Linked DNA regions of Homo sapiens. The protein of the gene in region 2 purifies or fractionates together with the protein of the main gene of each other region. This does not show direct contact. Each region holds a gene or a part of one and is shown on either strand. Other genes may lie near its edges. The genes, in order: MTMR14, ARHGAP20 and YME1L1.

Region 1 (3,654 bases), on a different chromosome or scaffold from region 2:
CACCTGTAATCCCAGCACTTTGAGAGTCCAAGATCATGAGGTCAGGAGATTGAGACCATCCTGGCCAACATGGTGAAACCCCGTATCTACTAAATATACAAAAATTAGCTGGGTGTGGTGGCGCACGCCTGTAATCCCAGCTACTCGGGAGGCTGAGGCAGGAGAATCACTTGAACCCAGGAGGCGGAGACTGCACTGAGCCAAGATCGAACCACTGCATTCCAGCCTGGCGACAGGGTGAGACTCCATCTCAAAAAAATAAAAAAAAAAGAGTGCCCATTTCACAAGGTTGTAGTGGGGTTCTCCAAGAAAAGAGTGTTAAGGGCTCTTGTAAATAGATCACAGAAACAGTATTACATCCTCAGTTATATAACCTAAGAACTTGGGATCGCCAAGCCTAAAGAATTGGGGTTTGTTATGGCCCTGTTATTTATGGTTCTTAGCTCTTCCTTAATTCCTCCTTCCAGAATTAGGTAAGCTTAGTTTCTTTTTTTTTTTAAGACAGAATCTTGCTCTGTTGCCCAGGCTGGAGTGCAGTGGTGCCATCTTGGCTCACTGTAACCTCTGCCTCCCAGGCTCTAGCGATCCTTGTGCATCAGCCTCCCAAGTAGCTGGAATTACAGGTGTGTGGCACCACACCTGGCTAGTTCTTGAATTTTAGTAGAGATGGGTTTTGCCATGATGGCCAGGCTAGTCTCAACTCCTGGGCTCAAACAATCCGCCTGCCATGGCCTCCCAAAGTGCTGGATTACAGGTGTGAGCCACCGCGCCCAGCTGGGTAAACTTAGTTTCCGTAAATCTTTAAGCTAAAGTTTCTGAACAAGAGGGTTTTGTTTTGTTTTGTTTTCTTTGTTTTTGCCTTGCCATTCTCTTCGTTCCCCTTCTTCCTACCCTCTTTGGTGCTGGCTGGCTGGTGGTTTTACCTCTGTGCCCTGATGATGACATTCTGATATTAAGCTCAGCTGTAATCAAGGTGGGTTTTTTTGTTTTTGTTTTTGTTTTTAATTAAGACGGGGTCTGGAATGCAGTGGCACAATCATGGCTTGCTGCGGCCTTGATCCCCTGGGCTCAAGTGATTCTCCCACCTCAGCCTCCCAAGTAGCTGGGAATATGGGCACATACCACCACTCCCAGCTGATTTTTTTTAATTTTTAGTAGAGACCAGGTCTCGCTGCATTGCCCAGGTGGGTCTCCTGAGCTCAACAGATTTCCTCACCTCGGCCTTTCAAAGTGTTGGGATTAGAGGTGAGAGCCACCGCACCCAACAGAGTGGTTCTTTTCTATGTTGATTTTATGAGTGAATCAACTGGGGATCTTTCTACAATGCAGAGATTCAGAAGACCTGAGGTGGGCCTGCGATTTGGCATATTCTAACAAGCTCTCAGGTAATACCAAATGTTACCCTTCAGTAACATAATAGTACATTGAGAAACGTAGTGGTGGTTGCCTTGTAAAAGCTTTTCCTGGAAGGAAACAAGTTTAGTGTTGATCCCTTAAAGAGACTGAAACTAGTATTTGTTGAGTACCTCTGTTTGGCAGGTGTTGAGGTTTTACTTGCTAGCTTAAGCCCTACAACTATTCAGTGAAGAAGACAGTATCACCACTCTTTTTTTTTTTCAATTTGATATGGAGTCTTGCTGTGTCGCTGAGGCTGGAGTGCAGTGGCGCAAGTGATCTTGGCTCACTGCAACCTCTGCCGCTCAGGTTCAAGTGATTCTCCTGCCTCAGCCTCCCTAGTAGCTGGGATTACAGGCGCGTGCCACCATGCCCGGCCAATTTTTGTATTTTTAGTAAAGACGGGGTTTCAACATCTTGGCCAGGCTGGTCTTGAACTCCTGACCTCGTGATCCACTGGTCTCGGCCTCCCAAAGTGCTGGGATTACAGGTATGAGCCACCGCGCCTGGCCCTCACCACTCTTTTATAGATGAAGTTGAAGCCCAGAGAAGTAATTTGCCTTTGCCGAAGATCACAGAGGTAGTAAGCAGAGTGGGGTTAAAAGCTGTATTTCCTGACTCTGTACCTGTCTGCCTTATCTTTCACCACCACGGCTCTCCCACCTTGTCTAGCAGAACCTCACAGTTAGGCCAAGGCCACTGTGGAACATGATTAACCTTAGAGGAGCTTGTTGGAGTTTGTTTTTACTTTTCACTCCTTGCAAGGCCTTAAAGTGTTACTGAAGTGATGTTGAGTGGGTGATGCCTGCTTGTTGAAAGGGGGGACTTCGGGTATGTTTGGGTGGGAAGAAATAGCATTTTTTGCTTTTTTACTGTCTGGCTTGGCTGTTACTATGATGCTGAATTAAACTGAATAGACTGAATAAAAAATAGACTGAATTAAACAGGGTAGAATTGGATTTAAGCAATGTTTTGGTCCTGTTAAGGAACCTCTCCAATTTGGTTCATCATCTGGGAATAGAAGCCTGGACAGGGATCTCTGAATAGCTAAGACATGTTTGTCAACAGTGTTCGTTCAGCTGCTGCTGTGTAGTAGACCTCAGGGATCAAGTTGGAAGCCAGATAGATGAAGTCCTTACCAGTAGGTCTAGTGGGAAACAGAGTCCAATAAAGAAGCAATAATTGTTAATAAAAGCTGGAATTAGGGGAAGTACAGGTGAGGCCCTGCCGGATAGTGGTTAAAACCATGGGCCCAGTGGCTACCCACAGGGTTTAGAATCTCAGCTACCCTGTTTACCTGTTCTGTGACTTTGGGCTAGAGATTTCATCTCATTAAACTACCTCATCTGTAAAATTGGGTAAGTGAGGACTGAGTGAGATAATGTGGGTGTAAGCTCTACTTTGTGCCTCTTATCTATTAAATAGTAGCAGCAGTAACATTTATCTCAGGAAGTTGTGGGGTACATTATAGGAACAAGCCACCCAGTTTGGTAAGTGTGGTGCCTGTCTGGGAAAGCTTCCTATTGGAAATATGTGATAACAGCATTTTCTTCTGTATTTGAAAATAGTTTGGCTGGGCATGGTGGCTCACGCCTATAATCCTAGTTACTTGGGAGGCCGAGATGGGCGTTTCGCTTGAACCCAGGAGTTTGAGACTGAATTAAACTGAATAGACTGAATAAAAAACAGACTGAATTAAACAGTCTGGGCAACATGGTGACACCTTGTCACTACAAAAAATACAAAGCATTAGCCAAGCATCGTGGCATGTGCCTGTAGTCCCAGCTACCTGGGAGTCTGAGGTGGGAGGATCACCTGAGCCCAGGAGGTCAGCTGCAGTGAACCATGGCGCCACTGCACTGCAGCCTGGGCAACAGAGGAAGACCTTGTTGGGAAAAAAACAACAAAATCTCACTACCTGGTAACATCTTGCCAGAAATTTCAGTGCATACATTACAAATGTAAATACAGAAGCCTACATTCATCCCTTCGAATGTGAGTATTATGTGCCAGACACAGCTCAGTGCTTAGCACTGCAATAAAAGAATCCTAAGGACAAGAGATAATAAAAACAGGAAAAAGTGAGAGAACAGAAACTGAATTGGTTCTTTTTTTTTTTTTTTTTAAGACGGAGTCTCATTCTGTTGCCCAGGCTGGAGTGCAGTGGCGTGATCTCTGCTCACCGCAACCTCCGCCTCCTGGGTTCAAGCAATTCTCCTGCCTCAGCCTCCCGAGTAGCTGGGATTAGAGGCGCGTGCT
Region 2 (3,654 bases):
CAATTTAGTTGAGCAAGTCATTAGCAAAACTGGTTAAAACCCTTAGGATTCCTGATTTCTGATTATTATAAAATAAAATTGACAAGGGACCCAGAAAAATAGTTTTGAAAAACACAGGTGCAAAGGTAGAAGAGTAGAAGATTATTATTCTCCTCAGCCTAGTTATAAAGATACCCTTTATAAAAATCCCTGCCTTCATGGAGCTCACATTTTAGTGGATGGAAAGACCATGATATCTCAGTGTTCCCCTTTCAAAATTACCCAAGGGGAACGAAAAATTTTAGAGTCCAAAACCTCAATTTACTATCATAGAGAGATGTCTGTTAACAAATTCAAGGTAAATTTGTGTATCTGATGTTGGTAAGATGAGGGAGTCCCTGATGACTGATCTACTGATTTACCAATGACTTTGGTAAAGTATAAAGTTTGAGGCTAGGTCATCAACAGAAAGTGACAGGCTGGCTGTGCATGTGGGTGGAAATTTATATAAGACAGTTGACTCAAGTAGTTGAAGAATGCTGCACAGAAACAAAGTTAAGACTACTCTCACCCAGTATGAAGTGCCCATTAAGGTTGGTCATTAATGATACCAAGTAGTCTTGATGCTATATGATTTCTTCCAACAGTGCACAGAGTTAATCTAGAGATGAGATTTTAGGAGATGTATAGGAATGTAGAAAAGAAGGTCAAAGAAACAGAAGTTTTCTGCTAGACAGGGATGATCACGATAACCATGGAATTCAAGTTGCATAAGGAGGAAAGTAAAGATGGACACGGGGACTAACAGATGGAGAAAGTGGTAGAGTTTAGTAGGTTTGAAAGAAGCAGAAGGAATCTGGGCTTCCAGAGATGAAAAATAGAATGAACAAAGGCTGGCTGAAGAAAACAGATGGTGGTTACAACTCTTTTTGTCCAATAAAATGTCAAAATCTTGAATCAAAGGGGCGAACAGGAAAATAAGTTTCACAATGCTGTTACAATTTCTTGATGCAGTTGTTTCAGAAACTATATGTTTTAGTATGAAATATAAATTAGAAATTAACTTTAAATGCATTAGAGAAGGTTCTGTTTAAAACAATCTTGGAGTGTATTAACACTTAAGGCAAAAAAAACTCTTTACAATGAATGCTGATTTAATTCGTTTTCTCTAAGTTTAGATAGCTACATACAAATGTTTCTTAAAGTACAGTTGTTCTGCAATGAAGATAAAAACAGTATGAGCTAATTTTTCATTAATGCTATGTCAGTTGAATCACACACAGATGAAGAATTTCAGACTTTCCCCTGGCACTCAGATGATGCCAATAATCTGTCAAGTGGCAGGAAGGTAGCCTCAGTGATCTCTCAAGGTCTACGCCATCCCTTTAAACTTATTACACCTGGGGTCCTAATTTGGTTCTTTGCAAAACGCAAATCCATGGGTCTCCCAGTTGGTTCACATTGACAAAGGTAGCTATAGAAATTCACAATCAATTTTCTACTATCTCACTCATACTTTTTGATATCAATTTTCTTCTGTTGCTTATACAATCTTCCTTTCAGACAGAGCTTAAAGCTCAAACTTGGGTTAGGGCAAATTACAGTTCTCTTATATTGAAGATCACTTTTATCATTCCAGAGTCTTTATTGTGGGGTGGGTAAGAGACTGCTATGTTCACAGGGAATTCATATTAGATTAGTAGACTAAGGAGAGACTTCTGTAGAAATCATCTTAGTCTTCACATACTTATCAGAACTAGAATCCAGGTAGGGCATCACAATCTTCTGACACCCATCATTGACAGCCTCCTTTTTATAATGCAACCATTTAGGGAGAACACACAGTTGGAGTGTATTACAGTACAAAGAAGGCATTGAAGCACCTGCAGCACTGCTTAGTGCCTTTGACTCTGCAGTAGGAATAAGGTTAAAGGGGAAAGAATGGTGAAGAAAGAAGGAACAGACTGTATTGCTACTAGCTGCTGATTCCTAGTCAATCATGCCTATTGCTGATTTATAAAACCATCTTCTTCTAAAAGTCCATCTTTCCTTTTCAAAATACTTAGCAAATTCCAAGAAAAAATACCTCATCTGGCGGGAGGTTTGAGTCTTTGCCTTTGTACTAAATTTATGTTCAAGAACGAAAACTTTTGCTAGAAGCAACTCACCACTCAGTTGCTGGGCTGCAGCCAGGCGGCTGGGCTTCAGGATGAACTGGCACTGCATCTCTCGGGGGAGCTGTTCCATAAGGAAGGGCTCCTGGAGGTTGAAAGGGGTGGTAGAGTCCTTTGATCCCGGTGTCAGGAGTGCAGAGTCTCGAAGATGGCTCATTTTAATTCCATATGGATATTCATGCCCTACACAGAGACAAATCTAAATGTAGACTTCAGGCTGACTGGTACTGTTAGCATGTGTACTGCAAAATAGGAATGTACTGCAATTTACTCCTGGGACTTTTGGCATAAAGAATCCCTTTGTTTGACAGAATGATCATTTACACTCTTACAGTTGGAGACCAGTATGCAGGTGGTCCTACCAAAGTAGTTTTAAGGAGAGGAGGGAGAAAAAGAAGAAAAAAATCTTTAAAGATTATCTTGTTTGGAATGAATGCACAGATCAGTTTGCGAGTTCCATAATGCTGACTTTTCCAACACGTGCATCTAAGGATAACTAAAGGTATTCTATTGTCTCCTTTGACATTAACTAGATATATAAATTTTCAGCAAATACATGTCCTTGCTCAGTCTCAAATCTATGATTTAAAATATTTTTTCTACCTACCACAGAAGTATAAGGATCTATATATGTCAAGTATCACTATTATTAATATTATTTAACACAAGATGTTTGCCTAAAAACATTTCATTAATTTTTATTAGTTACACAGTTAGTTACTCAACTGGTTTGATTTATGCTTCCCTCTCACTGCTGCCCTCTGAGATTGATGTTCAGAGGCAATAATCAGAAGGAAGACTGCAGGGGATCAGAAACACAGAAACAGATGCAAAAACGAATATACAGACTATAAAAACTAAACCCTGGACATCTGACTACAACATGATTTTAACTCTTTAGTATTCTAAGTAATTACGTCCTTTTAGTGTAATCCTCAAATACCACTGATGTAGATTTTTTTTAAGTACAGAGAGCAAGTTCCCTTCTATTCCTGACTTATCACTAAATGTAACTCAGTGAACTCTTACTCTTCCTTTTCAGCTGGTCTAGGCATACAATGTCAATGTTTCATTAATATCAAGTACTACAGCAGCTTCCAGAGATTAAGACAGAAAAAGGCTTCTATGACAATAATAAAACAAAATCAATTTATCAAAACAGCCGGCAGCTAATCTACAATTGAGGTTTGCAGAACACATTAAAATAATGATTAAGCATTGCTGCTAAATCATGGGACAATAATGTCCTATGTCTCATTGTTTTTCAGTAAGAGCTAGTCAGGAAGCTTGGGGCTGTCATAAGCCTAAAAGTTACCATCTACATAGTTTTCATTAATATATTTTATTAAAACAATTATTTCAAGTGTTTGATTTTTAATAACTTTATTGCTCATTGACTATTACAAAAATGACAACATTAAAAACCTGAAACACAGTCAATTTTGTCTTTAGCTCTGTGCATGATCACTTTCTGTATTCTAAATCTGAGCATATACATTTG
Region 3 (3,541 bases), on a different chromosome or scaffold from region 2:
CTTGCAGTGAGGCGAGATGGCGCCACTGCACTCCAGCCTGGGAAACAGAGCCAGACTCGTCTTAAAAAAAAAAAAAAAAAAAAATCAAGATCTGATAAAGGACTTGCATTCAGAATATATCTTTTTTAACTTGTAAGAACAAGACAACCCAATTAAAAGAAGTAAAAGATCTGAATAGACACTTCTCCAAAGAAGATATACAAATGGCCAATAAGCACCGGAAGATGCTCAGCATCTTATGTCACTAGAGAAATGATCTAACTTGGATGAGATTAATTTGGATATGAGTGGTCCACTAGAATGGCCATAATTATAAAGGCAGACTATAAGCACTGCAAAAGATGTGGAGAAACTATAACCCTCCTACATTGCTAGTTAGAACATAAAATTATAGTCACTTTGAAAATAGTTCATAAGTTTCTTAAAAAATTAATCCAAACACTTGCATGACAATGTTTTGGGTGATGGAAATGTTCTAAAATCTAATTGTGGTGATGATTACACACACAACATCTTTCAACTCTACATTTAAAATGAATTTTATCATATGTAAATTATACCTCAACAAATATGTAAAAAAATTTAAGACAGATAAGACTTTATCAATATTTTATACGTGTATGTATGTACATACAGAGAGGGAGACAGAACAGGTTTGGGGCAATAAAAAACGGGCAGAATGATAACAACTGGTAAATCTGGATGCAGGGTATATGAGACATCCATGTATTATGCTGGCAACATTTCTGCCAGTTTGAAATTACATTAAGATTTAAGATTATCAACCAAAAGGTCAAGAATATAATGTAACAAGCTTCCTGTAACAATATCTATCTTTTTTCAATGAAGACCATATACAGCTTAAATTATTAGGAAATTGTAGATAATTTTAATGAAGTCAACGTCAAGAATATAATCTGGTTGTAATACCAATACAATGTGTTCTAAAATAATTTTTCTATTGAGTTAAATATTCATCTGTAGATCCTATAACAGCATGTTCATATTCACAAAATCTGAATGAAAAGTAAACACAACTTGGCATTTCTGACGCAGGGTAACACAAAGTTCACTTCGGAGGGGACTGAGATTTTTGTTTAATTTTGCTTTTGAAACCAAGCACAGTTATAGTCAAAATGAGGGACATTATTCAGAATGAGGTTATGTATTTATTTAACAAAATACTGCTTCTCTGAAGTACATTTCATTAGGGAGAGTGACAGTAATGCTAAAAAAAAGAACATGAAAATGCACACAGCATTTCTGAAAGGTTATAATAATTTATTTAATTTTTTTTTGAGACAGAGTCTCACTCTGTCACCCAGGCTGGAGTGCAGTGGCTCCTGTGATCTTGGCTCACTGCAACCTCCACCTCCTGGGTTCAAGCAATTCTCGTGCCTCAGCCTCTCAAGTAGCTGGGATTCCAGGCATGCACCCCACACCTGGCTATTTTTTTTTGTATTTAAATTTATTTTAATTTTTTTTTGAGGCAGAGTCTTGCTCTGTTGCCCAGGCTGGAGTGCAGTGGCATGATCTCAGCTCACTGCAACCTCCATCTCCCAGGCTCAAGCAATTCTCCTGCCTTGGCCCCCAGAGTAGCTGGGATTATAAGCACCTGCCACCATGCCCAGGTAATTTTTGCATGTTTAGTAGAGATGGGGTTTCACCATGTTGGCCAGGCTGGTCTCAAACTCTTGACCTCAGGTGATTTGCCCGCCTTGGCCTCTGAAAAGTGCTGGGATTACAGGCGTGAGCAACCGCGCCCAGCCCTATTTTTTTGTATTTTAGTAGAGACAGCGTTTCACCACGTTGGCCAGGCTGGTCTCGAACTCCTGGCCTCAAGCAATCCACCCGCCTCAGCCTCCAAAAGTGCTGGGATTACAGATGTGAGCCATGGCACCATGCCAAAAGGCTATATTCCTGGCTCTGTGTTTCCGAGACTGCTTTTAATCCCAACTTCTCTACATTTAGATTAAAAAATATTTTATTCATGGTCAATCTGGAACATAATTACTGCATCTTAAGTTTCCACTGATGTATATAGAAGGCTAAAGGCACAATTTTTATCAAATCTAGTAGAGTAACCAAACATAAAATCATTAATTACTTTCAACTTAATAACTAATTGACATTCCTCAAAAGAGCTGTTTTCAATCCTGATAGTTCTTTATTTTTTCAAAATATATTTGCCATGGGATGCTAATTTGCAATAGGTGTCATAATGAGAATAACCCAAACTGGATAAATGTGACAAATGATTGACAAAGCATTTCACACCCTTCAATTACACCACATCAAGAATGAGGGGAAAGCGTTGTAAAAGTAGACTACTGCAATGCTACTTGTATTCTTGCAATAAAACCAGCAAGCATCCATATCAAGAGAGTTATCATCTCACTTCCAACTTTTTCCCCTCAAGAACAATTTGAATCTCTTTGGCATCCAAAGTCTCATAGGTCAATAAAGCTTCTGCGAGATTCTTATGCTCCTTTGCATGAGTTTTCAAGATATGTTTTGCTCGTTCATATGAGTCCTGAAACAGAAAAGGAGATACGTAAGCAGCAGCAAATGCAGGGATGCGAAAACCAGTCAATGGGAAGAGAAAGAAAAACTTTATGTACCCTAAAAAATATGAAATCTGTTTATATTTATAAAATCATGTAGAATCTTGATTCTACAGTAGAGATAATTTGTGCATTATAACATAGTAAGGAAAAGAGAATAAACACCTGAGAAGGCAGAGACCACCTCTTCTATAACACTCTCTAAACCTTTCCATCATACAAACTTTCTGTATCCTTAACTACTCTAAAGCATTCCCTCTACTTCCTTGAAATAATCAAACCCATGGTCCCTCCTGTGGAGAATGCATTCCCTAAGCCCTCTCAAGTGCTATTTGTTCATGTTTACCCTAGTTACTTCACAGTAAACAGCTGAGCTCATTGTTCCCATTACCTCTTTCAGACCATTACTAACCTACCCTCTTATATAATGCACTCTTCCTATTCTGTTGAAGTCCAGGCCATTTGACTATGGAGCTATCCAACCGTCTTCATTGTGCCATCTGACAAACATAGTCCTTACTCACTAAAGACTTTGGCACTCAGCTCTGTCACTCTCTCTCTCTCTATTTTTTTTTCAGTCTCACTGTTGCTTAGGCTGGAGTGAAGTCAGGCAATCACAACTCACTACGGCCTCAACCTCCCTGGGCTCAGGTGATCCTCCCACCTCAGCCCAAGTAGCTGGGACTACAGGCATGAACCACCATGCCCAGCTAATTTTTCTATGTTTTGTAGAGATGAGGTTTTGCCATGTTGCCCAGGCTGGTCAGTCTTACCCTTAAAACCTGCCTGGCTGGGTGCGGTGGCTCACACCTGTAATCCCAGCACTTTGGGAGGCCAAGGCAGGTGGATCGTTTGAGCCCAGGAGTTCGACACCAGCCTGGGTAACATAGTGAAATGCTCTCTACAAAAAATAACAAAATTAGCTAGGCATGGCAGCATGCGCTTATAGTCCCAGCTACTCAGGAGGCTGAGGTGGG

What was found.
Region 1: the proteins of ARHGAP20 (region 2) and MTMR14 purify together in Homo sapiens (affinity purification with mass spectrometry; one large-scale study listed by BioGRID and IntAct). This does not show direct contact.
Region 3: the proteins of ARHGAP20 (region 2) and YME1L1 purify together in Homo sapiens (affinity purification with mass spectrometry, with the first as the bait; one large-scale study listed by BioGRID). This does not show direct contact.

Annotation. Positions count from the first base shown.
Region 1 is NC_000003.12:9,655,942-9,659,595, forward strand, and holds part of MTMR14 (phosphatidylinositol-3,5-bisphosphate 3-phosphatase MTMR14), read left to right. Parts: intron 1-3,654. UniProt on the Homo sapiens protein: Lipid phosphatase that specifically dephosphorylates the D-3 position of phosphatidylinositol 3-phosphate and phosphatidylinositol 3,5-bisphosphate, generating phosphatidylinositol and phosphatidylinositol 5-phosphate.
Region 2 is NC_000011.10:110,604,414-110,608,067, forward strand, and holds part of ARHGAP20 (rho GTPase-activating protein 20), read right to left. Parts: intron 2,337-3,654; coding exon 2,148-2,336; intron 1-2,147. UniProt on the Homo sapiens protein: GTPase activator for the Rho-type GTPases by converting them to an inactive GDP-bound state.
Region 3 is NC_000010.11:27,109,588-27,113,128, forward strand, and holds the end of YME1L1 (ATP-dependent zinc metalloprotease YME1L1), read right to left. Parts: intron 2,534-3,541; coding exon 2,390-2,533; 3' UTR 524-2,389; downstream 1-523. UniProt on the Homo sapiens protein: ATP-dependent metalloprotease that catalyzes the degradation of folded and unfolded proteins with a suitable degron sequence in the mitochondrial intermembrane region.